Linked DNA regions of Homo sapiens. The protein of the gene in region 3 interacts with the protein of the main gene of each other region in a pairwise test. Each region holds a gene or a part of one and is shown on either strand. Other genes may lie near its edges.

Region 1 (7,000 bases), about 130 Mb from region 3:
GGTTGTTTGGGAACCTCAGTAAGTAAACCTCTGTGGATAGGGCCCCCAAATGTCCACCAAATTAAATGTATGAAATAAATTGTGTTCCACTTAATAATGAGGTTCTGGTGTAGCAATATATTTAATTCATATATTTGTTTATGTACATCCTCAATACCCTGTCTTAGATTGTGAAGTCTAAAGGGACAGTGATCACATGGGGCTAACTTGTTTTCCATAGCAAACGAACAACATGCTCTCCATAGAAGACTTACGGGGCAGTCCCGAAGTTCCAGCCTCCAATGGCCAGGAGAGTTTTCAGCTGGCTGTTCCTGTAAAACAAAGGATAGAAACAGATAAACTTCAAAAGTCAGGACTCCCTCCATTTAAAATACATTGCTTTAGTGTTGGATCTGGTCAGATATTTTTGTTTTGCCTTTTGTAGAACAATTTTCCTCCCCTACTGAAAACTTCCTTTATAAAAATTCTTTGTGTTGTTCCTGTCATGAATGCACTCAGGGTTCCCTAGGGAAATCTAAATTTTGAAACTGGGCTTTAAAAAATATTGTGTGTTGGCAGTATCTTTGATTGTGTAAGTTTAAAAAACATGAATAGCTAATATAATATTCTATTCTATCAGATAAAATGGTAAATGTTGCTTGAGCTTAATTACATTTTTAGCCTCTGTAATGTTAAAATAAATTAATTGGCTTGAAATTATACACATTCTCTTGAATAGAGATTCCCAAACATTAACATACATAATAATTAAGTGCAAGGGTTGTGGGAGGACAACATGAAAAATCTGGGTTTATCGCCCCTTCCCCTGAGATTCCAATTCGGTTGGATTGCAGTAGGGACTAACACTTACTCAGGTACCTCACATGATTTTGAGGCAAGTAGTCAATGGAGCACACTTCAAGAAACACTGCCGTAAAGGAGTTTATTTACTCTTAGTCATTGTAACTTAAATTCTAGTAGCTGTATTCACGATAATGCCATTACTGATAGTAGCAATCACCTGTAGCTTTCCTTCTCTTAAATATGACTAAACTGAACAAAGTCAACTCAGAATGGATTAAAGATCTAAATTTATGACCTCAAATTGTAAAACTACTGAAAGAAAACCTTAAAAAAAAGCTCCAAGAGCTACAGCAAGAATTTTTTGGATATGACTGGAAAGTGCAGCAACAAAAGCAAAAATAGACAAATGGGATTACATCAGGCTAAAAAGCTTTTGCATGACAAAGGAAACAGAGTGAAGAGACTACCTATGGAATGGGAGAAAATAGTTGGAAACCATATGTCAAGTAAGGAGTTAGTTAGTATCAAAAATATATAGGAAATTTATACAACTCAGTAGTAAGAAACCAAATAACCTGATTAAAAAATGGGCCAAGGACTTGAAAAGACATTTCTCAAAAGAAGACATACCAATGGTCAACAAGTGTATAAAAAATGCTCAACATCACTAATCATCAGAGAAATACATATCAAAATCAAATGAGATACCACTCAATCCGCTTAGAATGGCTGTTATCAAAAAGATGAAAGGTAAGTGTTGGAAAAGACATGGAAAAAAAAGGAACTCTTGCCCACTGTTGGTGGGAATGAACATTAGTATACCCATTATGGAAAATAGTATAGATGTTCCTCAAAAAATCAAAGAAATAACTACCATATGATCCAGCAGTTACACTACTGGGTTTACATCCAAAGGAAATGAAATCAGTGTGTTGAAGAGATATCTGAATTTCCATGTTCATTGCAGCACTATTCACAGTAGCTAAGATGTGGAATCAATCTAAGTGCCCCTCAATGGATGAATGGACAAAGAAAATGTGGTCTTTATATACAATGAATACTATTAAGTCTTAAAAAAGAGGCAGAAATCCTGTCATTTGCAGCAATATGGATAAACCTGGAGGATATTATGTTAAGTGAGATAAACCAGGCACAGAAAGACATATACCACATGATCTCACTTATAAGTGGAATCTAAAAGAAGTTGAACTCATAGAAGTATATAGTAGAATGGTCGTTAGCAGAGGCTGGGGGTGGTGTGGGGATGGGGGTTGGGGGGCATGTTGGTCAAAGGATACAAAATTTCAGTTAGAAATGAGGAATAAGTTGCAGAGGTCTATTGTACAACATGGTTACTATTGTTAGTAACAATATATTGTATTTTGAAAATTGCAAACAGTACATTTTAAGTGTTCTCACCACAAAAAACATTAAGTATTTGTGGAAATGCATATGTTGATAGTTCGATTGAGCCATTCCGCACCGTATACATATTTCAAAACATTACATTGTCCATAGTAAACACATACAATTTTTGTCAGTTATAAAAGAAAAATGAAATGCAGAGTCTTGGTCCCCATCTCAGATCCATGGATCTGAACTACATTTTAAGAAGCATTAATGTTTGGGAAGTACTGAAAAAGGGGATGCCAAATTAAATATCTCCCTCATCCTACTTATTTTTCAGGCCATTGAAAGCTTGGTAGAGAGTCACATCATTCCATTCGATGGTGGTGATCTCGTTGTTCTGCCTCCCAGCAAAGGCGTAGATCAGGTGGGTACAGAGGCAGGGGTCGATGTTGTCAGGCATGAAGCGCCCCAGGCCTGGCCGGTACTGGGCCCAGTTGGTGAAGTAGCATGTCAGCTGGTAGGCAGAGCCTGTGTGTAGTCAGCAGGAGGGACAATGGCCTGGTTTAGGATCCACTGAAGTGTGCTGTGAGTTTTGGCCTTGCCTCTGTTTCCCTCCCTGTGCCTCAGATGCCTGATCTCTGTGTGGAGGTAATTAGTATGAACACTCTTGCAAATGCATCCTAAGATTCTAACTCAGAACTGGTCACTAACTTGGAGTTGTTTATTTTTAACTTTCACAGACTCATTTTGGGATTTTGGATAAGCCTAGCTAGCAGCCTTCTAAGAAAAGATGCCCATAGTCCTATGAAGCCCAGTGAGTACCAGTTTATAATTCAGATGGTCATGCTGAAGAGGATAGCAGTGACAGCCAATCCAAAACACTAGATTACTCCCAAATCAAACCCATCTGTCTGTGAAGCAAACAGCGGCTCTCTTTCCATAGTATGGTTTATCTCGTATATATACATTCAATGATAAAACATGGAGTCCATGACTTACCGAGCTGCAAATTCAGTATAAGGACAAGACCTGGATAGAAAGAAAAAGCATGTACTTTGAACCGATTGTCTGTACCCCGTAGAATCTAATTCTGAAGGATTGATTGCCTTCCAATTTGCCATAAATTGTTACAACCTCAGTGAGATTTGGTGGTGATTCCAAAGGCTTTTCAGTGAATACAACAGTAGATCTACCTTTCCCCACCTTTATCAAAAATGACCGTGGTACCTTCGTCTCACACCTTTCTTGTCACAAATAAATGTTCCTGAATGCTGAGTCCGAAGTTTACTATCTATGGAAGATGTACTTACTGAAATCACCAACTGATCACTGTAGTCAATGATGACACATCCATTCGTTCTTCCCCTACCTGAGTGATAGAACACAGCCTTCCAACAGATAAGGCATCTGCTAAATCAGAGAATTCAGTATCTTCTGGCCTTTAGTGGTTTTTTGGAATGACTTTCAGGAGGCCTTATATGAGGAGAGAAGAGCTAGGAACTATGGGGTGAGACTCCAGATACCTTTCCCTGACTTCTACAAAGCAATTCTTCTACTCTGATTGTTTTATAAATTGAGCTTGAGGTTTCATTTGGAAAAGGTTCTGAAGCTTAAACAGTTTGCAAATCCCAGCTCTAGAGCAACTAATAAATTCTTGGTATGACTTGTCTCTAAACAACTTACTGAATCAACCTCTTTGAATAATTTAATTTCTAACATGTTTATGGTACATCATCAACTCAGTAGGATAATAGGGGAGTAAATAGAGAAATAATTCTGAAAACAGCAGAACAAAGACAACTTGCATAACTCTATCTCAGTTCCTACTGATTTTCTTCCCCAGAAAAGCTAGTCCAAGGACACAAGCAAATAAATAAACATTATTCCAATTAAAATGAGATGGCGTAGGAAGAAGAGTAAAGAAAAATGAATGGCTGAACAAAAGATGAAAGAGTAAGACTAGCACTAGGAGAAAGTATGCTTTTCCTTTAGGACCAGGTCCATGGGATTAACAAAAGCAGAAATGTTACCAGAGTCAGTTGAAGTTAAGAGAACAAGAGGCAGACTGATTTGTATATAACAAGATTCATTTGAAATTTGAAATGATGAAAGAAGAATGGAAAAGTATAGGGATGTAGTATGAAGACCACTTCATGATTTTCAGAGCCTGTGAGAGAAAAAGAAACTAGATAAGATGAAGGGTCAATCTCTGATTACAAACCCACCTGTGAGGAGAATAAGCTTTGTCATGGTTGCAGTCAGCACCAGTCCCGCAGAGCTTTTTATATGTTCTGATTCTGTGGTTATCACAAAGGCTTCTAAATAGAGAACAATTTGACCCAGATGTGTATGTAGTTAATCAGTAAATCAACGGACCTTCTCTTCTACAAACACCCTCCCAAGACCTTCAACCTACACCCTCCCACCACCAGCATCACCACCTTCTCTGCCCAACAAGGACAGAACAATGTCATGGCTCCTAACAGGGTGGTGGAGACCATCACCATGGAAAACACCAGTTTAATAGCTTTTTTGGCAGTTCCAAGGGCTGATAAGCAACTGTTTAGATACTGTGGTCAGATTTTCTATTGTGGACATTTTGTGTCTGGCATCAAAGCAAGTCTTTATGGAAAAATAAATAAAAAGAAACTTTGGAAGTTATTAGCTGTTCTTAAACCTTTTTTTCCTCATGGAATTATTCATATGTAATTTGTACAATCAGTGCCTAAGAAATCTTCCTTCTTTAGGTGCTACTCTCTCAATATTCTACTCACACATGTTCTTTGGAATGGCTTCAAGTCATGACTAAATGATAATTTTATCTAAGAATGTTTGGATCTCAAAATGTCCCCTATAAAGGTCACCAAGAACTCTCTAGTGTTCTGTAGTTTCAAATTACATCCCCTAAAAACTGCGTTGCTAATGGATAGAAATAATATAGATGATATTGAAATGAGTCTCTTCATAGAAATATTTGCAACTTGACCGTTTCTGGAACTTTGTATTTAAATTAACTCCAATCTACCCCTTCCAAACATAATTCACTACCATTGTTCTATAATACATTTCTCTTTTGGCCAAAGGACTATTCTTTGCCCTCAAACATGCCTTGCATGTCTTTGCTCAAGGTATCCCTCCACTCCTTGCCTGTAATGTCTTGCCTGCAGTGTCTCCTTATCCTCACTGCCTATCCCAATCTTAGCAGTTCTTCAAAGTCCAACTCAGATCTTTTCTATCTTAATGCTCTCTCCTTCTTTTGATTTACTTTATGTACTCTAGCACATATTTTCTGTATTGCTTATATGATGCTGTCTTGTGACAATACCAGGAATGCAGTTGGCGGGAATATGGGTGATCATTATGGGATTTCAGCACCTTAGCAGAGTTCTTGTGAGTCCAGACAGGTTTATCCATTTATCACATTTGGAAACTAAATTGTATCCATTCTTCCTGTGATTGGTAGGTTAAGTGTTTTGTTCTACTCTCAGAACCAGAGAAAGTCTAATAGAAGTGCTGCCAGGAAAAATTTTTATTTTATTTTAGTTCCAGGGTGCATGTGCAAGGTGTGCAGGTTTGTTACATAGGTAAACATGTGCCATGGTGGTTTGCTGTCCCTATTAACCCATCACCTAAATATTAAGCCCAGCATGCGTTAGCTATTTTTCCTGATGCTTTCCCTCGTGCCACCCCCACTGACAGGCCCTAGTGTGTGTTGTTCAGGGAACATTTCAATTGTGAAAATAATCATATCAACAAACACTACAAGTGCCTACTATGTGCCAGAGACTGTATTTGGTGCTTATATCACTTAGGCTTTAATTTTGTAAGCAATCAAAACCAACTCTAAGAAGCACAAATCAATATATTTGAAAGACATGAAGAAACTCACAGAATCAAAAAGAATACAGAACCTGCCTCTAATACAATAGAAACCAAGTCTTTCTATGGGGAGGGGTGTGGGAGGAAGGCTTAGGAGAAATAAACTCCAATTTTATTTTCCATCTATGAATGACAAGAATTAAATCCTGGGGAAAAAGCATATTGTTGTATGACACCAGACCCTCAATTAGGGAAAGGGCAGGGCACTTGGATTTACATTTTCACAAGGACTGGTCACAAAATGAAATTCTAAAAGAATAAAAAGTAAAGCTGAGTGACTAAAAAAAATGACTATCATCAGAGGGCTTGACTTTATTGTTTCTTTTACCCTATAAAGAGGATTATTACTATCACACCAATTTTGCTGATGAGAAAATTAATCAGCTATTAAACACCAGATCCAGATCCCTGTGTTAAGTACGCAAGCTTTTGGCCCAAGTTAAACTGAGTGAGGCATTTTCCCAAGGTAGTCAAGAGAATACAGTTGAGCCAAAGAGAATGTCAAATCAAAGTCAAGGATTTGCAAAAACAAACAGCAAAGCCAGTAGCTCCAGGTTTATCGTATTCAGGACTATAGGGTGTAGCTACCATTTATAGCTAGTGAGGTATTTTCTATTGAATTTGGCATCCCCAGTTCTAAATAAATGACATGACCTACAGATTAAACATTTCTTTTTAATAGCTCCTTAAGAGCCCCAGCAAACTTGCATCCCATCTGAGCACTTGGTTATTGGAAAGAATTACTGCGTTTATGAGTCATAGAATGAATAGTTTTAAACTGTGACCATGTGTATCCTTTTACATTATTGTTTTCAATAACCTTGTATTATTTTTAGTTTCTTTAATTGTAAAATCTACCATACACATGAGTTTAGGTATACATTTTAAGAAAAATATGGCCAAGCCTGGTGGCTCACACCTGTAATCCCAGCACTTTGGGAGGCCAAGGCGGGTGGATCACCTGAGGTCAGGAGTTTGAGACCAGCTG
Region 2 (7,042 bases), about 41 Mb from region 3:
TTGGTCAAGGGCTACATTTTTGACATTTTGATAAACATATTTCAGATCGCTCCCCTCAAGACGATTTGTACAATAACCGGATATATAGTTCCTTTTTTCCTTAACCCTCTCCAGCACTCAGAATTGTTCATTTTACTTATCTTTGCCACTATGATAGTCAATAAATAAAAATTCATTCTGTTGCTTTGTTTTTAAATTGTTACCTTTTTAAGTTTTAAATTGTGGCAACGTGCACATAAAATGAGACTTACCATCTAACCATTTAAAAATGTACAGTTCAGTGGTATTAAGCGCATCTCCTGAATTCTTCGTCTTGCAAAGCTGAAACTCTACACCCATTAAACAGTAGCTCCCCATTCCCCTCCCACCAGCCTCCAACAACCACCATTTTACTTTCTCTATGAATTTTTGACTACTCTGGGAACCTCCTATAAGTGGAATCATACAATATTTGTCTTTTTGTGACTGTCTTATTTCACTTATCATAACGTTCTCAAGGTTCCTTCATGTTGTAGCATGTGTCTGAATTTTCTTCCTTTTTAAAACAGAATAATAGTCCATTGCTATCTGTACCCTGCATTTTGTTGATCCATTCATCTGTTGATGGACATCTGGGTGGCTTCCATCCATCTCTTACCTATTGTAAATAGTGTTACCATAAATATGAGCATAAGAAAATATCTCTTCAAGACACTGCTTCCGATCCTTTCAGGTATATACCCCACAAAGTGGAATTAACGGAATTATACTGGATCACATGGTAATTCTATTTTTAATTCTTTGAGGAATTGCCATTTTGTTTTCCATTGTGACTGCACCATTTAACATTCCCAGCAACAGTACACAAGAGTTCTAATTTCTCCACATCTTGCCAATACTTTATCTGTTTTGTTTTGTTTTGATAGCAGCCATGCTAATGGGTATAAGGTAGTATACATTGTGGTTTTGACTTACATTTCCCTAATGATTAATGATTAATGATCTTTTCATGTGCTTGTTAGCTATGTGTATATCTTCTTTGGAGAATTGTCTAGTTAAGTCCTTTGCCTATTTTTTAAACAGGTTGTTCTTTTTGTTGTTGAGTTGTAGGAGTTCTTTATATATTTTGGATATTAACTATGTAGCGTATGATTTGCAAATATTTCCTCCCACTCTGTAGGTTACCTTTCAGTCTGTTGACTGTGTCCTTTGATGCGGTGAAGTTTTAAATTTTGATGTAGTCTGATTGATGTCTTTTTTTTCTTTTGTTGTCTGTGCTTTTCATGTCATAACCTAGAAATCATTATCAAATCCAGTGCTGTAATGCTTTCCCCTATTTTTTATTCTAAGAGTTTTATAGTTTTAGCTCTTATTTTTAGGGCTTTGATCTGCTTTGAGTTACTTTTTGCAGATAGTATAAGGTAAGGATCCACCTGCATCTTTTGCATGTGGATATCCAGTTTTCCCAGCACTATCTGTTGGAAAGACTGTTCTTTCCCCATTTCATGGTCTTGATGCCCTCGTCAAAAATTTTACTGGACTTGTTAGAATCAGTTCTCATAACCTCTATGAAATTGGTATTATTATTATGCTTTTGCAGATAGTTGTTAAAAGTGAGGGGAAAAATTATTCTGGTGTTTAGAGGCAGAATTGTAAAAACAAAAACAAAATTATCAAGACTAGATTTACTGGCTGAGTTTTATTTACAACTGAAAGAAAATGAAACAACATAATCATCTTCTGGGTAGTTAATCCATCATCTGTTGCTATGCAGATTTTAAGAGGATTAGGATCAATTCCAATACAGAAAAAAGGTCAAAGAGCTTCTTTAAAAGAATCATCAAAAATACAGCAATGAAGCCAGGTGCTCAATGGCTCACACCTGTAATCCCAGCACTTTGGGAGGCTGATGTGGGTGGATCACTTGAAGTCAGGAGTTCAAGGCCAGCCTGGCCAACATGGTGAAACCCCGTCTCTACTAAAAATACAAAAATTAGCTGGACATGGTGGCATGCGTCTCTAGTCCCAGCTACGTGGGAGGCTGAGGCAGGAGAATTGCTTGAACCCGGGAGGTGGAGGTTGCAGTGAGCCGAGATTATGCCACTGCACTCCAGCCTGGGTAACAAGAGCAAAACTCCATCTCAAAAAAAAAGAAAACAGAAAAATACAGTGATAAGATCTAGCATTCAAATTATAGACTGAAACCTTGCTCAACTCATAGTCTGGTATCATGCCAGTCTTACTGGATCTCACTTTTGGCAGAAGCTGGATTTTGTTGGGACCCAGTGTAACATAATTTCTCTCAACATATCACCCAGCTGCCCAGAATCCATTTTCTACTAAAAGCTGATTCCTTGTGTTCCTGACAAGCCTCGTGATCTATTTGGGCTTGTTTCCTACTTCTACCTCCTCCTGCTGGCCTGAATTAAATCTCTTAGAAGCTGGGACAGCTCAGCAGAATATCACCCCCATGGGTCATGATGAAGGTTGTGTTTTGTCAACATTTCCATCCTCAGAGACAACACATTGAGAATCTAGAGTTACATCTACCTGAATTACCAAGATAATTTCGTGTAGGTCAGAATATTGTGGAGGAAGACCACAGTCATCTTTCTTTAACCCAAATGATAAAAGTGTTTTAGGTTTTTATGCTTGTTATAAAATATCTGTTGTTGGCTTATGCCTGCCATAAAAACATCTGTCATTGATTTCAGCTCTGACTATACACCCTTTCCTCCCCCTCAGTAGGTGTATTTGTGTGGAAACACGATGTGCACATTTTACGGGGTTTTCATTTCGTTTTGTTGAACTTTCTATATGTTCATCCTGCACACACTTAAGAACAGCCTCATACTCATTTTGTGGAAACAGCGTAAGTTTCTCACATTCACACATGATGTCCATTCTCCTGTTTATTCCTTCTTCTTCTGCAGCAGTGATTTGCTGGCTGCCATAGTTATCCCTCCTCCACCTGTTCTACACTCTTCTTTAAGGGCAGATGCAATTCCAGGACTCTCCTGTGATGGGGGCAGCCTTCTTTATGGGCCACACTTAGTGCTCTCAGTGCTCAGTGGGACACGAAACCCCACAGAAAAGGGTCAGAAACTCTGTTTCTCACACACAAGCTTCAGACCCGCCTTTGCCTCTTGCTTCTGGAGTAGCTTAGCTATTTTAGTCAAGTTATCCAGCCAGAGGTTACTCCTAAAGTTCTTTTCAGGCAGCAACCATGGCAGAAAGAGTGGAGGGGTGGGGATGTCATACAGATGCCCCCAGGAGTGACAGGTGTGCCTGCCCGGCACGGTCCCCGTGATCCAGACAGATTGGGCAGCGCGCCCTCTGCTGGAGGCGGCCAGGGCTGTCACGCCTACACCCAGCCGAAAAAAGCTGGGAGGCCAAGGTAACTTCAGGGAGGCCCGGCTCTCCAGGCGCCACCTAGAAGTGGAGACCTCCCCAGACCTCAGAGACCAGCTTTAGATCTCCCTGGCAAGGTACACTGATGGCTGCACTGGTGCCCTTGTTTAGCTCCTTGCTCTGCAACTCCCGAGTTGCTGCCAAGAAGAGCCCATGGCCACCCGATACGGACAAGCCAGGCTTCCCTGACTCCCCATTTTGTGGCTCACTTTAAGAAAAGCCAGGTTCAATGTCTTTCTTGCTCCAGAAATCAGCTACAGCTCCAAGAAAACAATATCTCATGGAGCAGGCAGATGAGTCCTTCTGGCCTCAGGCACGCAGTGAGTCTCAGAACATCATCGTCTTTTTTCCCCCTTTTCCTTTTCTTAAAGCAATCACACATGTACAGGAAACTTGCAAGTACAGTACAAAGAATATTTTTCTTGAACCATTTGAAAGTAGTTGCCACCTCATACCTCATCACCCCTGAATGCTCTGGTGTGGTTTTTAAAACTCCTGGACACTAAGGACATGAATAGACAATTCTCAAAAGAAGATATACAAACAGCCAACAAACATGAAAAAATGCCCAACATCACTAATGATCAGGGAAGTGCAAATCAAAACCACAATGTGATACCACCTTACTCCTGCAAGAATGGCCATAATCAAAAAACAAACAAACAAAAATAAATGTTGGCGTGGATGTGGTGAACAGGGAACACTTCTACACTGCTGGTGGGAATGTAAACTAGAATAGCCACTATGGAAAACAGTGTGGAGATTCCTTAAAGAACTAAAAGTAGAACTACCATTTCATCCAGCAATCCCACTACTGGGTATCTCCCCGGAGGAAAATAAATCATTATACGGAAAAGATACTTGCACATGCCTGTTTCTAGCAGCACAGTTTGGAATTGCAAAAATATGAAACCAGCCCAAATGCCCATTAGTCAATGAGTGTATAAATAAATTGTGATGTGTATATATATACACACACATATACATATATATGTATACATATATACACACATGTATGTATATATGTGTGTATCTATACACATATACACACATATGTATACATATATGTATATATGTATACATATGTGTATATGTATACATATGTGTGTATATATGTATACTTGTGTGTGTGTGTGTGTATATATATATATATATATATATATAAAAAATGAACTACTACTCAGTCACAAAAAGGAATGAAATAATGGCATTCGCAGCAACCTGGATGGAATTGGAGATCATTATTCTAAGTGAAGTGACTCCGGAATGGAAAAGCAAACATCATATGTTTTCACTCACAAGTGGGAGCTAAGCAATGAGGATGCAAAGGCATAAGAATGATACAATAGACTTTGGGGACTCATGGGAAAGGGTAGGAGGGGCTGAAGGATACAAGACTACACATTGGGTACAATGTACACTGCTCGGGTGATGGGTGCACCAAAATCTCAGAAATCACACTAAAGAACTTATTCATGTAACCAACCACCTGTTCCCCAAAAACCTATTGAAATAAACAAGCAAACAAAAAATTCTCCTAAACAGCCAACATACAGCCATCAAAATTGGGACACTAACATTGATATGTGACTATCCTCCAACCCTCAGACTCCATTTAAGTTTCATCAGTTACTCCAGTAGCATCATTTATAGCAAAATAATCCAGTTCATCATTCTGTGTGGTATTTAATGATCATGTCTCTTTAAACTCTTCTGTCTGGAACAGCTCCTTGGTCTTTCCTTGGCATGACCTTGACACTTTTGAAGATTCAGGCCACTTATTCTGTAGCCATCCCTCCATTTGGGTTTGTCGGATGTTTCCTCACGACTAGCTTCAGGTTATGCATCTTAGGCAGAAATAGCACAAGATGTGATGCTGTATTTTTCTCACTGCATCCTGGTAGGTGGTGCAAGATGTCAATTTGCCCCATAGCTGATAATGTTTCTTTATTCTTAAGGCAGTATCTGCCAGGCCCCTCACCACCCCATCCCTGACCCTGCAGGGGATGCTTTGCCTATGATACTTTGTACCAGGCCACCCCTAGTGTGAACACCCTTCTCACCCTGCTGGGGTTCTAACACCCCACTCTGGGCACCGCCTTCTCTGTGTTAAACCTAATGGCTTTAAGACTGAATTGTTCAGGAAGAGGAAGGAGGGAAATAAGGAGAGAAAGAGCCTCATTCACTTTTTAAAATTAGCAATAGTGATTGATAGTGTAATGAACATACTGGGCCAGGCACAGTCTAAGCACATATATGCTTTAAGTATATTAACACATTTAATTTTCATAACTACCTGTGACATAGGTACTACTATTAGCACCATTTCACAAACAAAACTGAAACACAGAGGTTAAGTCACTTGCCTGGGGATACACAGCAGCTGGCAGAAGCAGGATTTGAACTTAGTCTTGAGCTCCAAACAGTGCCTTTTGGGCAGGCACGGTGGTTTACACCTATAATCCCAACACTTTGGGACGCCGAGGTGGGTGGATCATCACCTGAGGTCAGGAGTTCGAGACCAGCCTGGCCAACATGATGAAACCCCGTCTCTACTAAAAATACAAAAAATTAGCCGGTGAGGTGGCGGGCACTTGTAATCCCAGCTACTTGGGAGGCTGAGGCAGGAGAATCGCTTGAACCCGGGAGGCAGAGGTTGCAGTGAGCCAAGATCATGCCATTGCACTCTAGCCTGGGCAACAAGAGTGAAACTCCATCTCAAAAACCAAAAACAAAACAAAACAAAAAATAAAAAGTGCCTTTAACCAACCCAGTCCAGTCCACTTCTGCAGGCAATGCTCTTGCCTTGGCCATTAATGACCTTCATGTTACCAGATCCAATGGGCAGGTGTGAACCATCATCTGTTAGAACTGACCACTGCCGTGTTGAAACAGCCTTTCTCTTGGTTTGTGCACAACACGTTCTTGATTTTCTTCCTACTGCTCTAACTGCCCTTTCTCTGTCTCCTCTGCCAGCTCCTACTTCTCTCTCTTCTTCTTGGGATTTGAATTGCACAGGGCTTGTGCCCAAGCTCACTTCTCTTCTCATTCTATTTCCACATGTATTCCCATGTGTTTATTTTTGTTTTTAATTTTGTCTTAAAGCTGGGATCTCGCTCTGTTGCCTAGGCTGGAGTGCAATGGCACAATCATAGCTCACTGCAGCCTTGAACTCCTGGGCTCAAGGGATCCTTCTACCTCAGTCTCCTGAGTAGCTGGGACTACAGGCACTTGGCCACCATGCCCAGCTAATTTTTTAAAATTGGTTTAAATTTTTTTGTTGTTGAGACAGGGGTTTTGCAATGTGCTCAGGCTGGTCTTGAACTCCTGGCCTCAAGCGATCCTCCCAAAGTGCTGAGATTACAGGCATGAGCCACCACACCCAGCCTCTCACGTCTTCAAACCTCCCTTGTATGCTGATGACACTGATGTCTCTCTTTCTAGTCCATGCCTCTCTTTGGGCTTTGAAACTCATATCTAGCTGCTTACTTGGCATATCTGCCTGGTTTTCTCTCAGCCATCTTGAACTGGGCTAATCTTCAATCCCAAACTGGTCTATTTATCTTCCCTCCTTCAACTTGTGCCTCCCTTGGTTGTCCTCAAATGAGTAAACATGTCACCACCGCCCACCCCACCACTTAACGCAGAAGCC
Region 3 (6,942 bases):
TTGGCAAAAAACTAAATAGTTTGGACGTGAAGTTGGATGGTAGGGTAGACATTGATAGGAGAGACTTTCGTTCTACCAGTCTCTCCTTATTGAGGGTGGGTGTTACAGACTTTGGTAATTTATTAATACACTTGTAAAATCTTAATAGCATAAGAATAAAAATTATTAGTGATCATGTAAATACATGAAACATTTAAAAAATAATCCAACCAAATATGTTACAACTTTGTTTTTATCCAGGTTTCCAGTTTATGCAAACTTCTGTGAAAATGAGCTTTGTTATTGGTGAAGACATTGGAAATTTTACCAGCCAAAACAGAGTTTCTCTCTTATTCAGGGTAAGATGTAATTGCAGTGTGCTAGCGCTGGAAGGGACCTGTTTTATATGTTATGTATGTTACACGTCAGCCCTCCATGTCCTCCAGTTCTGCATCCTTGGATTCAACCAACTGTGGGTTGAAAATACTGGAGGTAAAAAGACAAAAAATAACAATGAAGAACAACAACAAAAATACACAGTATAATAATTACATTTACATAGCATTTATTTTGTATTAGACATTATAAGTAATCTAGAGATGATTTAAAGTATATGGGAGAATGTATGTAGATTATATGGAAATATGAGGGTATTTTATTTAAAGGGACTTGGGCCTGTGGATACCAAGGAATAACTAAGGTAAAACTGAGCATAAGTGGCCTGTCCATATTTTGTTAAATATCAGATTATTGATTAGTGATCATCAACATTTTCCCGCATTCATGCAGTGCGGCCTCTGAAAACATGGTTGAACATCCTATGGAATTTTTTTTTTTTTTTGAGATGGAGTCTCACTCTGTCACCTAGGCTAGAGTGCAATGGCGCGATCTTGGCTTACTGCAACCTCCGCCTGCCCCACCTCGGGTTCAAGTGATTCTCCTGCCTCAGCCTCCTGAGTACCTGGGACTACAGGCATGCACCACCACGCCCGGCTAATTTTTGTATTTTTAGACGAGACAGGGTTTCACCCTGTTGGCCAGGCTGGTCTCAAACTCCTAACCTCAGGTGATCCAACTGCCTCGGCCTCCCAAAGTGCTGGGATTACAGGTATGAGCCACCGTGCCCAGCAGAATTTTTTAACTATTTGGTTACGACTAATTTGGATAATGTAGTGCATGCAGCTTTGATTTGTGCCACTAAGAGTGGGCAAACTGTCTTCCTTTTTGTGAATCAGTAAAAATTTTCCCTCAACATGTGTTTGACAGTTGTCATTCACTGCTAAGTTAAGGCATTTGGTAAACCACACAGCCTCTGCATCCTTCCTAGCGACAGCCACAAGAAAAGGTGGGCATGGGAGGGAAAATGCTCTTGTGAATTGAACTGGAGGCAAGCTCCACTTTTCTTTAGAAAAAGATGTAGATCAAAATAACTAATATTTTCTTCCTTGCTCGATTTCTGTGCCTTCCATGGTACATCAAAATAATAGGACCAGTAATGGCCACAATCCTGTTGACTGCTGTTACCTTCGCCCCAATATTTCTTTAAGCATTTCTTAAGCATCTAGCTTGTGTTTTGTTATATTTAACAGATTTTCTTAAAGTATTGTATGAATTAAAACCAGAAATAACTTCATTTTCCTAGAAAGGGATAATTTCTCCCGGAGAATAAATCCTGAGGATTTAGTTAGATGCTGTGGGTATTGTATTTTAAATAATATTTTAATGGGAGCAGCTGATTGACTTTCAAATGGATTGTTTACATTAATAGTAATTCTGCAGTTGTTTTACTATTGCATCAGTCTGCCAGACAAGTTCCATGTGCATATTTTAATTCAGAACTAATTATACTTAAAAATTTAAACCCTGCATACTTCCCCAAAAATGTTTAGGGCAGTTAAAAACAACTCTTTTGGAAGATGACTCGCATTTTAAGAAATGAGAGAACACTGTCAAATGATGAATGCATTTAAAAAATAATTTGCAAAGTGATAAAAGCCCTTAGTTTTAAATCTTACAATGACATTAGCTCTTACAAGAACTCAGTAAGTATTTGCTGTTTTTTAATGGGATAGTAATAAGGTTGAGGTTTTTGTTAAGGGACGTTTACTTATCATCAAACTCTATACTTACTACTACAAGGAAACTCCAAGTACATTAAACACTATGTTTTATAATTCTTTGCCACACTGCCAATAAATTCTGTTCACATTTTAAGGATGACAAGTCCACTATATGTAACACGTAAGAATGCTATCCTGGCAGTAGACACAGGGCCAGAATAAACTGGCAAGTTTTCATTCCACACAAGTGTGGGAAAAAAATGACTACAACTTAAACTTTATTTACTTGATTGAGAGCTTATTGCACATGAAATGTTTTATGTGGTTGATCTTAACTTCGTTTACATTGACTTCTATGCTCAAGATTGTTCAATTGCTGCTGCTGCCGTTGTGTTTTCTTTCAGGATCGAGGTGGGTACCTTCATATAATATCTTCTTTTTAATTTCTTCTCTGGCAATTCTTTCCTGGATTCTTTGCTTTGCATAATTATACCTACAATGAAACCTTAGAAGAAAAGAATATGAATAAATTGTTAATATAAAGTCCTACAGAAATTAATTTATGAAATTTCTCTAAATCACACAAAACTTAAATACAGATGACTACTACCCTGAGACTGAAAAATATGTTCTAATTTATAGTGCTATTTTTGGGCAGTTTTGGTGTCAGAATACCTATCAACACATTCTTTTTTTATTAGGAAAAAAAGGATGTCTACATAACAATTTGTAAAGTGATAAAATCCATTAGTTTTTAAGTCTTCTGATAGCATTGGCTATTATAAGAAACAAGTATTTGCTCTCGTTTTTAACGGGATAATAATGCTATGTCTACATAAAATGATTTCTACCACCTTAAATAGCTCACTGTAGAAATTCATGTATAAATGGAACCATATAGTACATACATATCATACTCTTAGGTCTGGCAAATATTTGAGGTTCATCCATATTTTATATTCACTCATCAGTAGTTGTAAACACATTCTTAAAGTAGCATTTTCAGATATGAATAAGCAGGGATGAAATAAGTATTAGGGTAAGGGAAATGGTTGAGGCTTTCCTAAGTGAAGTGTAAAAACCACAGCTTTCTTTTTAATGGGATGTCTAATATGCATTTATCTGTTCAAGCATTTTAAGATTTCCATGAAAATGTCCTGAAAAATCAAGATTCTTCATTGAGGGTGAGGATCTCCCAATGGGAGACTGCTCTGAAAAGAGCATGTGCTTTTTGAATTAGATAACCTACTATAATCATGGATGTTCTTGAATACTTAGCAAACATACCAGCATCCCAAAGTCACCAAGATAAACCCTCCTACTCCAACATCACATGATCTTCTAATTCTACCTGTAAAAATAAGCATAACAATTAATTAGAATATAATTACGTTATATACATTACTCCACCTAGAAAAAAAAATAGTTCATTATGTAGAGAAATGCTTTTTTTAGTACATAGAGAAATAAAAAATACAGATACTCACTAGTGAACAAAAAATGTCCAAAGCCAGCCACAACAGATCCTAATGAACCATACAATATTGAATGCCGGGCGCAGGGAGTATTTTCAACATCTAAAAATCCTAGGAGCTTAAGGGACTAGAATGAAAAAAAAGAACCTAGATTGAGTAAGAAAGTATTTCATTTTGGGGTGCTTTGGCAAAAATGACAATACACCATTTCTTTTCTTGTAGTTGAGGGTTTAAACTAGAGTATGTGCCACGTGACAACCTAAATCAGCTTGCGTTGTCTTTGTCCACCTTTGGTATGCAGTCTGAATCTTTAAATCCGAAAACCTTACAAATTGGACCGGAAAACCCTTAAGCAGTAGGGTAACTTGGAGCTGTATCTTAATTTGCTAATCAACTGACTTGGAAATAGGATAATTCATTTTATGAGCTCTTTAAATGAGTTTATTTGGGAATATGCCTATCATTGGAATTGAAAGCAGCATAGCTTGCTTCAGTAACTCCAATAATTTGGGAAGCAGAAATGGAAAAAGTAATTTGAGTCATGTTTGCTTATGTAGTGCCGTTTAAAATTCCCCTAGTAATTACCTTTCATATTTTATTAACTAGGTTAACATCAACTGTGGTTGTAAGAGTAAATGTTTCACCTTAAGATAAACATGGGCAATATATTAAACTCTAGTCTGTTTTCTTGCCTGTGAAGTGAGGCTGCACTTGATTATATTTGATTCTTTGTTCGTAATACATGGGAACGACAGCTAAGTGTGGTGAAAAACGCGGGGATCCAAAGAGCTGGATTTTTATCTCAGATCTGCCGCTAACTTTTGTATCCTATAGGCTACTTTTATTTCTATGGTCTCAATCTATAACATGAATGGGTTGGGTTAAATGACTGAAGTTCCTTCAAGTGCTAAAATTCTTTTTCTACAGTCTTCATTGGATTTATGTATTTCTTATTCCTAATATGTTTAACTGGGATGTCTGTCACTCTAGGGCGGCAAGACAGACATTTAAAAGTAACAGTCACACTGCTGAACTGGCATTTCTGTTAACACAAAAGTTTAGAAAACTCACGGTAACTGTTACTTGATTTAAGTGTATATAAAATTTTCAGTAAGGCTGCTTTTAAAAGGAACCACTGTCCATTTAAAGGTTTCATAGTTATCTTCAATGGGTTAGTATTGTTTGGGGCAGGACATTAAACTAGAAGGGATTCTATAGGATGAGGTGATACCTAGAAGGTAATATATTGTAAGGCAAAAGAGATTAGAAGAAATGGGGAAAGGATAGTAAAAGGCAAGTCAGATTAAAGGTTGAAACATGAAGATATTCTCAATTGTATTTCTGCCTATGTTTGCTTTTTTGGCTCAAGCATCTGTTGGAAGAGACAAAATGTGACTTGGTTCATAATAAAGCAAGAATTATTTACTCTCGGATCATTCTATTCCATTTTTTCCCTCTGTCTGGCCCCGTTCCCACCCGCATGCCTAACATAGGATTGCTTCAAAGCTTTGCAGTACAGTTCTTCACATTACCAAGAGGTTGGGGGATTTCATTTAGCAAGACGACTTTTTCCTATCAGCTTGAGAGCCCAGGGGACATATGATCATGTGGGTAGTGTTATGCAGGTGAGGAATGCTGGACTTAGCGCTCCAGTCCAGGACTACCTCTAAACTAGACTATTTCCCCAAGGATGGGATGCTGGGGCCAGAGGATTAGTACCAGTTTGATCTAGTCTTAGGTGCAAAGATGCAAGTGTGAGACCAGCTTGTACCACAGGATAGAATTAAGTATTTTCTAGTCCCACTCTCAGATTCTGATTTACAATCACTGGAATCTATGTTTAGAAAACTCTAGGTGGTTTTTTCTGATGACTGTCATATTGGGGAAACACTGCTTTAGGAAATTTTATTTTTTTAAATAAAAGTAAATTTGCAAACAATAGGAAAATAGCTCAGCTGACTTTAAAGGCAAATATCTAAATAGAAGCTACACATCTTATTTAAAATAGTGCCTTCTGAAACAAACCCAATCCCCAACAAAACTCTGGTCTAAAATAATAGTGGTTGATCTCATAATTAAGAGCTGCTGGTGGGGGAGGTAGGTATTAGTGCCAGGCTCTCTACATGTTTTTTAATTCTCTAGCCTTTGTGTGAGATTACCTCTGAAACAGGCTCGGGGACTTAAGAGGCTAATAATAAGTGTTGGCAGGAGTGGAGGCAGAAGTCAGTTTCACCACAAAGCCTATGACATTTTCATTGTGCCAAACCACATCATTAAGAAGTAACCAAGGCTGGAGGGTTTGGTGGGGAGCTTTCCAGTTGTCACATATCTAAGGAGTAATAAGATTCAGTACATAAATCCCTGCAATTTCTATCAAAACAGGAAGAATATGCAACGACTTGAGCCTGTATACCTTTACAGTTAAGTACACTGAACTGTAAAATGCTCAGAAGTGGAGATGAATAAAGGATCCCGGGCATAACTCCCTTTGAAGTATTCTATTTATATACGGAAATATTCTGTTCATAATATACATGCCTTTAACATTTCTCTTCTATTCCTTAAGTAGCCTGCATACTTAAGATTTAACTCTTTGCCACTAACAAACGGGAACCCTTAAAAATAAATTAAGGAAATGTCAGACATTTTTTAAGCTTAGATTTAGAAAAGCAGCTTTACCAGCTCACCCTGATCAATCTAAGGAAAGCTCAAGAGATTTCCAAGCCAGAATGTCAATAATGTATAGAAATAGATCTGATCAAATTAGAGACAGTTGATTTTCCACCACTAAATCTGCTTCAGTGCCCGTATTTCTTTCCTCTGGTTGCAAAGGATGAATTGGCCCTATTCCTATCTAATGCTAGTCTTCCCACTTGGGCACTTGATTCCCCTCTTGCATACTCAAGGGCTTGGCTTCTATAGCTACCCCTTTCATTTGCATCGTTAGTTTTTTCACTTGCAATAATTTACTATCAGCCCTCTTGGCCAGGTGCAGTGGCTCACCCGTCATCCCAGCACTTTGGGAGGCCAAAGTGGGTGGATCACTTGAGGTCGGAAGTTCGAGACCAGCCTGGCCAACATGGCAAAACCCTGTCTCTACTAAAAGTACAAAAATTAGCCAGGAATGGTAGCACATGCCTGTAATCCCAGCTACTCGGGAGGCTGAGGCAGAATCGCTTGAGCCCAGGAGGCGGAGGTTGCAGTGAGCCAAGATGGCACCACTGCACTCCAGCCTGGGCAACAGAGCAAGAAGACTCCATCTCAAAAAAAAAACCCAAAAATCCTCTATACACCCCTCTCCTCTCATCAGCCACCTAAACCACCATCCTTTTGGGGCAAAACTTCTGAGTGTAGGTGTGCTTTTCTACTTAAAACCTCCCATTCTCCCTTTAACTCACTTGAGTGAGGCATCTATCCACTGAACTTCA
Region 4 (6,416 bases), on a different chromosome or scaffold from region 3:
ACCGGAGGATAATGATAATGGCAGCCACCATGTGTGGGCTTATCAAGTGCCAGACACCATGCATTATGGCCTGCATCGCTTCCCTTCTGTCTTATAACAGTGTCATGGTATGGATTTATTCTCTCCTTTCTACAGCTGAGTAGGCTGAGAGTGACGTGATTCGCCCAGGGCAAGTGCTGGCGCTGGGGTTTGAACCCACATGGTGTGACTCAGTACTGTCAACTGCACTGCCTCTTCTGCCTCTCAGCTTGAGCCCGCCAGGCCAGCCTAGGCCCCTGGGAAGGCTCCTCAGGAGCTTACCTGGGTGGAGGTTCAGTAGGGATGGGTTTTTGCAGGTCTGAGACACCCCCCGCCACACTGCCTCCAGCTCTGTCCAGGTTCTTCTCTGCACGTTTGCCCCCAGCCCCTGAATGGGACAGCCTGAGAAACCCTCAGGGGACGCTGTTTCCACCGCACCCCGAGCCCTCCTGTCCTGTCACCGTGTTGCTCACTGCACCCCAAGGGAGGAGGCTGGTGCTTAGAAATAAATGCTCACTGGTGATTTATTGCATGGGCTGGGGGAACCGTCCAGAGCAAGAATGGGCAAGGGAGCAGGGCGTGAGGGTCCCAGGGATCTCTGGAGGCCACTGAACCAGCCCTTCGGGGGTCCCTGTGCAGGGCTCTAATCATAGTTGGGGTCAGCCTGGGCCTGGCGTGGGGTGAGGTGGCTGGTCAGGTAGCGCATGGCTGAGCGGATGCCCTCCACGGTCCTCTGCTCCACTGTCTCCAGCACACGGGTGATGGTGCGCAGGGCTGAGCTGGTCCCTGACACCAGCCCAGAGGAGAAGGCCGAGCTGACGCTTCCCACCAGGCTGGGGACCGAGCGCAAGCTGGGCCCCGAGCTGTGCAGCAGGTCTGCCACAGTGCTGTGGCCGGAATCCAGGAAGCCTGTGGCTATGGCCATGCCCATGGTGGTCTCGGACCACACCAGGATGTCTGCCAGGGAGCTGATGGAGCCCTCGCCCCTGTCCAGCAGGCTGGTCATGGAGCGCATGTAGCTGTTCTCCTCACTGGCCGTGTACAGGCTGGAGTCCAGGGGCCTTCTCCCCAGGGCCACCTCGTGGGGGCCAGGCGACGGGGACACACTGCCTGCTGGAGGTGGAGGGAAGAACCAAGTCTGCAGGTCTCCTAAGCTGTCCACCACATTTGCCCCCATTGCCACTGGGGACTCATCAGATGGTAAAGCTTCAGCTTCAGGGTGTGGGGCCTTTGGATGCTCAGCTTTCTCCTCAGCAGACTTGGTGGTGCTGGCAGCCTGAGGGCCATGCTGGCCATTGGCACCTGCTGTGACATGGTCAGCATCACTCTCGACGGGCTGAGCCTCCATGTGCTGGGTGGACTGTAGCTCAGCACTCGGGGCAGAGGGGGCTGACTCCGGCTCTCTCTCAGGAACACTCGCCATTTGTGACATCTTGTCTTTACCCAGGAGGTGACTTGGGAAAACCACTAGACTCTGACTTGTCCTTGCGTCTTGAACCTGCCTGTCCCACGCTGGATTCTGAAGGCTCATAGACACTTGCAGGGGACTTGGATTTTGGCTGGGAAGCAGAGGTGTGATTTTTCTGGGTGTCTTCTGGCCGTGTTCTGGAACAACTGCACTCTTGTCTTTGTCTCCAGATGTTGATATGGCCCTGGGGGTGGCCGTCTTGAAGGAGGCCTGATCTATATCCTGCCAGTCAGTGGATGCGACAGAGCTGCTCACTGCCAAGACATCTGCTGTGAGTGGGACCTGACCTTGGGGCTCTCCTGCTGGGCTGTCCTTAGACCTGCTGTCATCCACGTTGCCCAGGGGGTACCCTGGGAGTGCCATGTATGGGGCTGCTGGTGGAGCCGGCCTCCCCCTAGGGCTCTCCTGTGGTCATCTATGCCCTTTGCTGCTTGTGGCGGTTGGAGGGAGTGGCTGCAACCCAGCTGGGCTGAGTTGTCCAAGTGGTGAGGTCACAAGGGACTGTGGCCACTGGTGATGTCACAGGTACCCATAGAGCAAGGGTCTTGAGCTTCTGGAGCAGCCTTCCAAGTGGGCTAAGTCTATGGGACAGTTTGTTGCCAACTTTGCAGGTACATAGGGAAAAAATGACAAATGTTCTTGAAAGGGCTGGAGGCGTGTGCACAGGGGCAAGTACAACCACAGGGACACAGGAGGAGTGACAGCTGTGACTCTGACAAATGAGAAGGGATGCAGATGTTGATTTAGAACAGTGTTTATAAGGGACCCCTCCTGGCACCTCTCTGTCTACACTGGTGCCTCAAGACCCCAATTTAGGCTGGGCATGGTGGCTCACTCCTGTAATCCCAGCACTCTGGGAGGCTGAGGTGGGGGGATCACCTGAGGTCAGGAGTTCGAGACCAGCCTGGCCAACATGGTGAAACCCTGTCTCTACTAAAAATGCAAAAAGTAGCCGGGCGTATTGGCGTGCACCTGTAATCCCAGCTACTGGGGAAGCTGAGGCAGAAGAATTGCTCGAACCCAGGGAGTGGAGGTTGCAGTGAGCCGAGATCGCACCATTGCACTCCAGCCTGGGCAAAAGCGTACTCCGTTTCAAAACAAATAAACAAACAAAACAACAACAACAACAAACAACAACAAATAACCACCCCCAATTTAGTCAGTGTTCCTGCAGGGAATCAGTTTCCCAGCAGTGGTGAGTAGGTATAAGCAAAAGCCAAGGGCCTGGGCAGCTCCATTTGTGGCTGTGGGTTTAACCCTTTTGATGTAGGGCAAAAATCTCTATCTTCTCCTTGCTCATCTGGACTAGAAGGGCAGAGAATAACAAAAGGTCTGCAGACCTCTGAGTGTTTCTTGGAGAAGGATAACCCCAGATACACCTACTTGTGCTTAGCTGGGCACGGTGGCTCATGCCTGTGATCCCAGCACTTTGGGAGGCTGAGGCGGGCAGATCATCTGAGGTCAGGAGTTTGAGACCAGCCTGACCAACATGGAGAAACCCCGTCTCTACTAAAAATACAAAATTAGCTGGGCGTGGTGGCACATGCCTGTAATCCCAGCTGCTCGGGAGGCTGAGGCAGGAGTATCGCTTGAACCCCGGGAGGCGGAGGTTGTGGTGAGCCGAGATCGCACCATCGCACTCCAGCCTGGGCAACAAGGGCGAAACTCTATCTCAAAAAAAAAAAAAAAAAATGCCTACATTAAGAAGATGTTTGGAGAGGAAGGCTCAGTCGGTCGTGTCTGTGCTTCTCCAGGGGTTATCAGCTAACATTTAGTGACTGCTTATGGGCAGAAAAGGGCGCATAGCATCCTTCTCATCACCCATCACCTCTGGGTAGGTACGGTTCTACTAGTATACTCAGTTTACACACAGGCATGCTGAGCCTCACAGAGAATAAGCGACTTACTCAAAGCCACACTATTAATAAGAGCTGAATCTGGGATTTGAACCCTGTCTGGCTTCAATACTAAGCTTTCCAGCACTCTCTCATACCCAGGAGGGATATTAAAAACGTTGAATGAGGGACTGGGCATGGTGGCTCATGCCTGTAATCCCAGAACTTTAAAAGGCCAAGGTGGGAGGATCGCTTGAGCCCAGGAGTTCAAGACCAGCCTGGGCAACGTAGTATGACCCTGTCTCTACAAAAAATAAAACAAAAATTAGCTGGGCATGGTGGTGTGCACCTGTAGCCCCAGCTACTGGGGAGGCTGAGGCCCAGGAGGAGGATTTCTTGAGCTCAGGAGTTCCAGGCTGCAGTGAGCTGTGATCACATCATTGCATCCCAGCCCGGGTGACGGAGCGAGATCCTGTGCCTTAAAAAAGAAAAAAGATATATCTAATGACTGGCATGGTAATGATGCTGGCAGATGCAGACAGAGGCCTCCCATTAGAACCGGTTCCACCACACCAGCAGGTGACAGCTGCTGCCAGTGCTGGGCTGCACCATCAGCAGCATGGTCATGAGTGTATGGAAAATTCCCCTCCCTGAAACTCTCTGCCCTTGTCCTCTATCCTGCTGCCTCTCCGGGCTGGCTCCCTCCCTCCTCCACCTCTCCCAGGATCAGGCCTTCCCTTCACACTCCTTTTACTGACTCCGCCCAGCCAGCCTCCACCTTAACCCTCTGAGGCTGGCGGCACTACTGACACCAGGCTCCTTGCTCACTAAGTGTTTATTTTCCCCGCAGATACCCTGCCGCCACCTCAGAGGTCACAGGGCAAACCCAGGCTTGTTGGAGTGTGAGGGGCCGATGAGTACAGCCTGTAGCTTGTAAAGGAGTCCTGGAGAGAATGGTGGCTGCCCATCCCAGATGACCTTCTTCCTTAGTGTCAGACAATTGCTAAATAGAAATTATAGGAGGCTACTGCTTCGGATGAGGCTCCTGCACCAGGCCCCAGCAGACTGGACTAAACGTCAAGATGGGGTCACTCACACTGAGGTTCCAAATCACCGGGAGACAGAGATGATTGCCAGTTTCCCAAATGGGCCAGTTTCTTTTTTCTTTTTTTTTTTTTTTGAGGTAGAGTCTTGCTCTGTTGCCTTGGTTGGAGTGCAGTGGCGTGATCTCAGCTCACTGCAACCTCTGCCTCCCGGGTTCAAGCGATTCTTTTTCCTCAGCTCAAGCTGGTCTCGAACTCCTGGCCTCAGGTGATCCACCCATCTCAGCCTCCCAAAGTGCTGGGATTACAGATGTGAGCCATCTCGCCCGGTATTTTTTTTTTTTTTTTTGAGACAGCATCTTGCTCTGTGGCCTTGGCTGGAGTTCAGTGTGTGATCCCAACTCCGAGCTGAAGCAATTCTCTTACTTCAGCCTCCCAAGTAGCTGGGAATACAGGCACATTCTAGCACACCTAGTTAATTTTGTTTTTACTTTTTGTAAAGATGGAATTTCACCATGTTGCCCAGGCTGGTCCCGAACTCCTGGGCTCAAGGAATCTGCCCACTTCAGCCTCCCAAAGTGCTGACATGACAGAAACAGGCCAGTTTCAATCTTCAAGTGGCACGATAATGAAGTTCCCTCCGTTTTAATTTTTTTTCTTCTGTCTTGAACTCCTGGGCTCAAGCACTCCTCCAGCCTCAGCCTCCTGAGTAGCTGGGACTATAGGTACGTGCCAACATGTCCGGCTATTTTTTAAATTCTTTGTAGAGATGGGATTTCGCCATGTTGCTCAGCTTGGTTTCTAACTCCTGGGCTCAAGCGAACCTCTCACCTCCCAAGTGCTGGGATTATAGGTGTGAGCCACTGCACCTAGCCTGGTTTTTGTTTTTAGTTTCTGCTTTTTTCCACCCTCTTCCTGTCTATAAAGCCAACTTTCACTGCTTGATTCATTGGAACCCTTATTCTATTTTAGGAAATCAAGTGTTGCCTGATTCTAGAATCACAAAGCCAATTGAGAGCTTTAAACTAAACTTGTAATTTTGTCTTTTGACACTTAGTGTCAGGACCCTGATTTTATTCAGGGCCTCTGTGTCTTAGCTAAAAGAACACATTTCCCAGCCTCCTTTGCAGGTAGGTAAGAACATGTGACCATGTTCTGGCCATTGAGAAGTAAGCAGAAAGTATTGAGTCGAACTTCAGAAAGGATCCTTCAAAGAGTTTAACATCTTTTTGCTCTTCCCCCTATCAGGAATGTGAAGGCTGGAGCAACAGCAACCCTCTTGGTCCAGCAAGAGGACTGGTCTAGCAACCCTCTAGGTAATCTTGAGGGTGGAAGGCACACAGTAAGAGGGTGGACCAAGCAAGGATGGAAGGACCCTGGGTCCCATGATTGGAGCTGTCCGGCAGCCACCAGACCAGACTATCGCCAACCTCTCAAATTCCTTTATGTGAGGGAAAATAACACTATATGTGCCCAAATGATTATTTTTGGTTTTCTATTACATGCAGCTAAACGTAATCCTAATCCAATTCTAACAGTTATGAGATCCCTGTCAAGTGGTTGGTCCGTGTTTGCTTGAATATCTTCCAGTCCTAAACAATCAAGAGTAGCATATGGCACTGAGTGTCAGTAGGCCTGACGCTGGGCAGGGGTTATTTCCCCATTTTTCAGATGAGGAAACTGAGGCTTAGAGAAGCCAAGCACATAGCAAGGTCAGTGGCATCTGCCTGACTCCAAAGCCCCACACCCCACACAGCTCCCTGCTTTTAGTTAGAAAGTTCTCCCCGCTCCCTATCTTTACCCAGGAAATAAAAACCTATATATGACTTAATTTTTTTTTTTTTTTGAGATGGAATCTCACTCTGTCACCCAGGCTGGAGTGCAGTGGCACGATCTCAGTTCACTGCAACCTCCGGCCCCCGGGTTCAAGCGATTCTCCTGCCTCAGCCTTCCAAGTAGCCGGGATTACAGGCGCCTGTCACCGAGCCTGGCTAATTTTTGTATTTTTAGTAGAGACGGGGTTTCACCATCTTGGCCAGGCTGGTCTTGAAC

The links.
Region 1: the proteins of COX20 (region 3) and CHIA interact in binary tests that used the Homo sapiens proteins (3 or more experiments, as listed by UniProt).
Region 2: the proteins of COX20 (region 3) and GOLT1A interact in binary tests that used the Homo sapiens proteins (3 or more experiments, as listed by UniProt).
Region 4: the proteins of COX20 (region 3) and TEX44 interact in binary tests that used the Homo sapiens proteins (3 or more experiments, as listed by UniProt).

What each region holds. Positions count from the first base shown.
Region 1 is NC_000001.11:111,307,851-111,314,850, reverse strand, and holds part of CHIA (acidic mammalian chitinase isoform c precursor), read right to left. Parts: intron 4,452-7,000; 5' UTR 4,384-4,451; coding exon 4,359-4,383; intron 3,163-4,358; coding exon 3,133-3,162; intron 2,662-3,132; coding exon 2,460-2,661; intron 312-2,459; coding exon 255-311; intron 1-254.
Region 2 is NC_000001.11:204,203,949-204,210,990, forward strand, and holds part of GOLT1A (vesicle transport protein GOT1A), read right to left. Parts: intron 1-7,042. UniProt on the Homo sapiens protein: May be involved in fusion of ER-derived transport vesicles with the Golgi complex.
Region 3 is NC_000001.11:244,838,643-244,845,584, reverse strand, and holds the end of COX20 (cytochrome c oxidase assembly protein COX20, mitochondrial), read right to left. Parts: intron 3,642-6,942; coding exon 3,527-3,641; intron 3,391-3,526; coding exon 3,327-3,390; intron 2,545-3,326; coding exon 2,409-2,544; 3' UTR 528-2,408; downstream 1-527. UniProt on the Homo sapiens protein: Essential for the assembly of the mitochondrial respiratory chain complex IV (CIV), also known as cytochrome c oxidase.
Region 4 is NC_000002.12:231,588,385-231,594,800, reverse strand, and holds TEX44 (testis-expressed protein 44), read right to left. Parts: upstream 1,938-6,416; 5' UTR 1,850-1,937; coding exon 662-1,849; 3' UTR 525-661; downstream 1-524.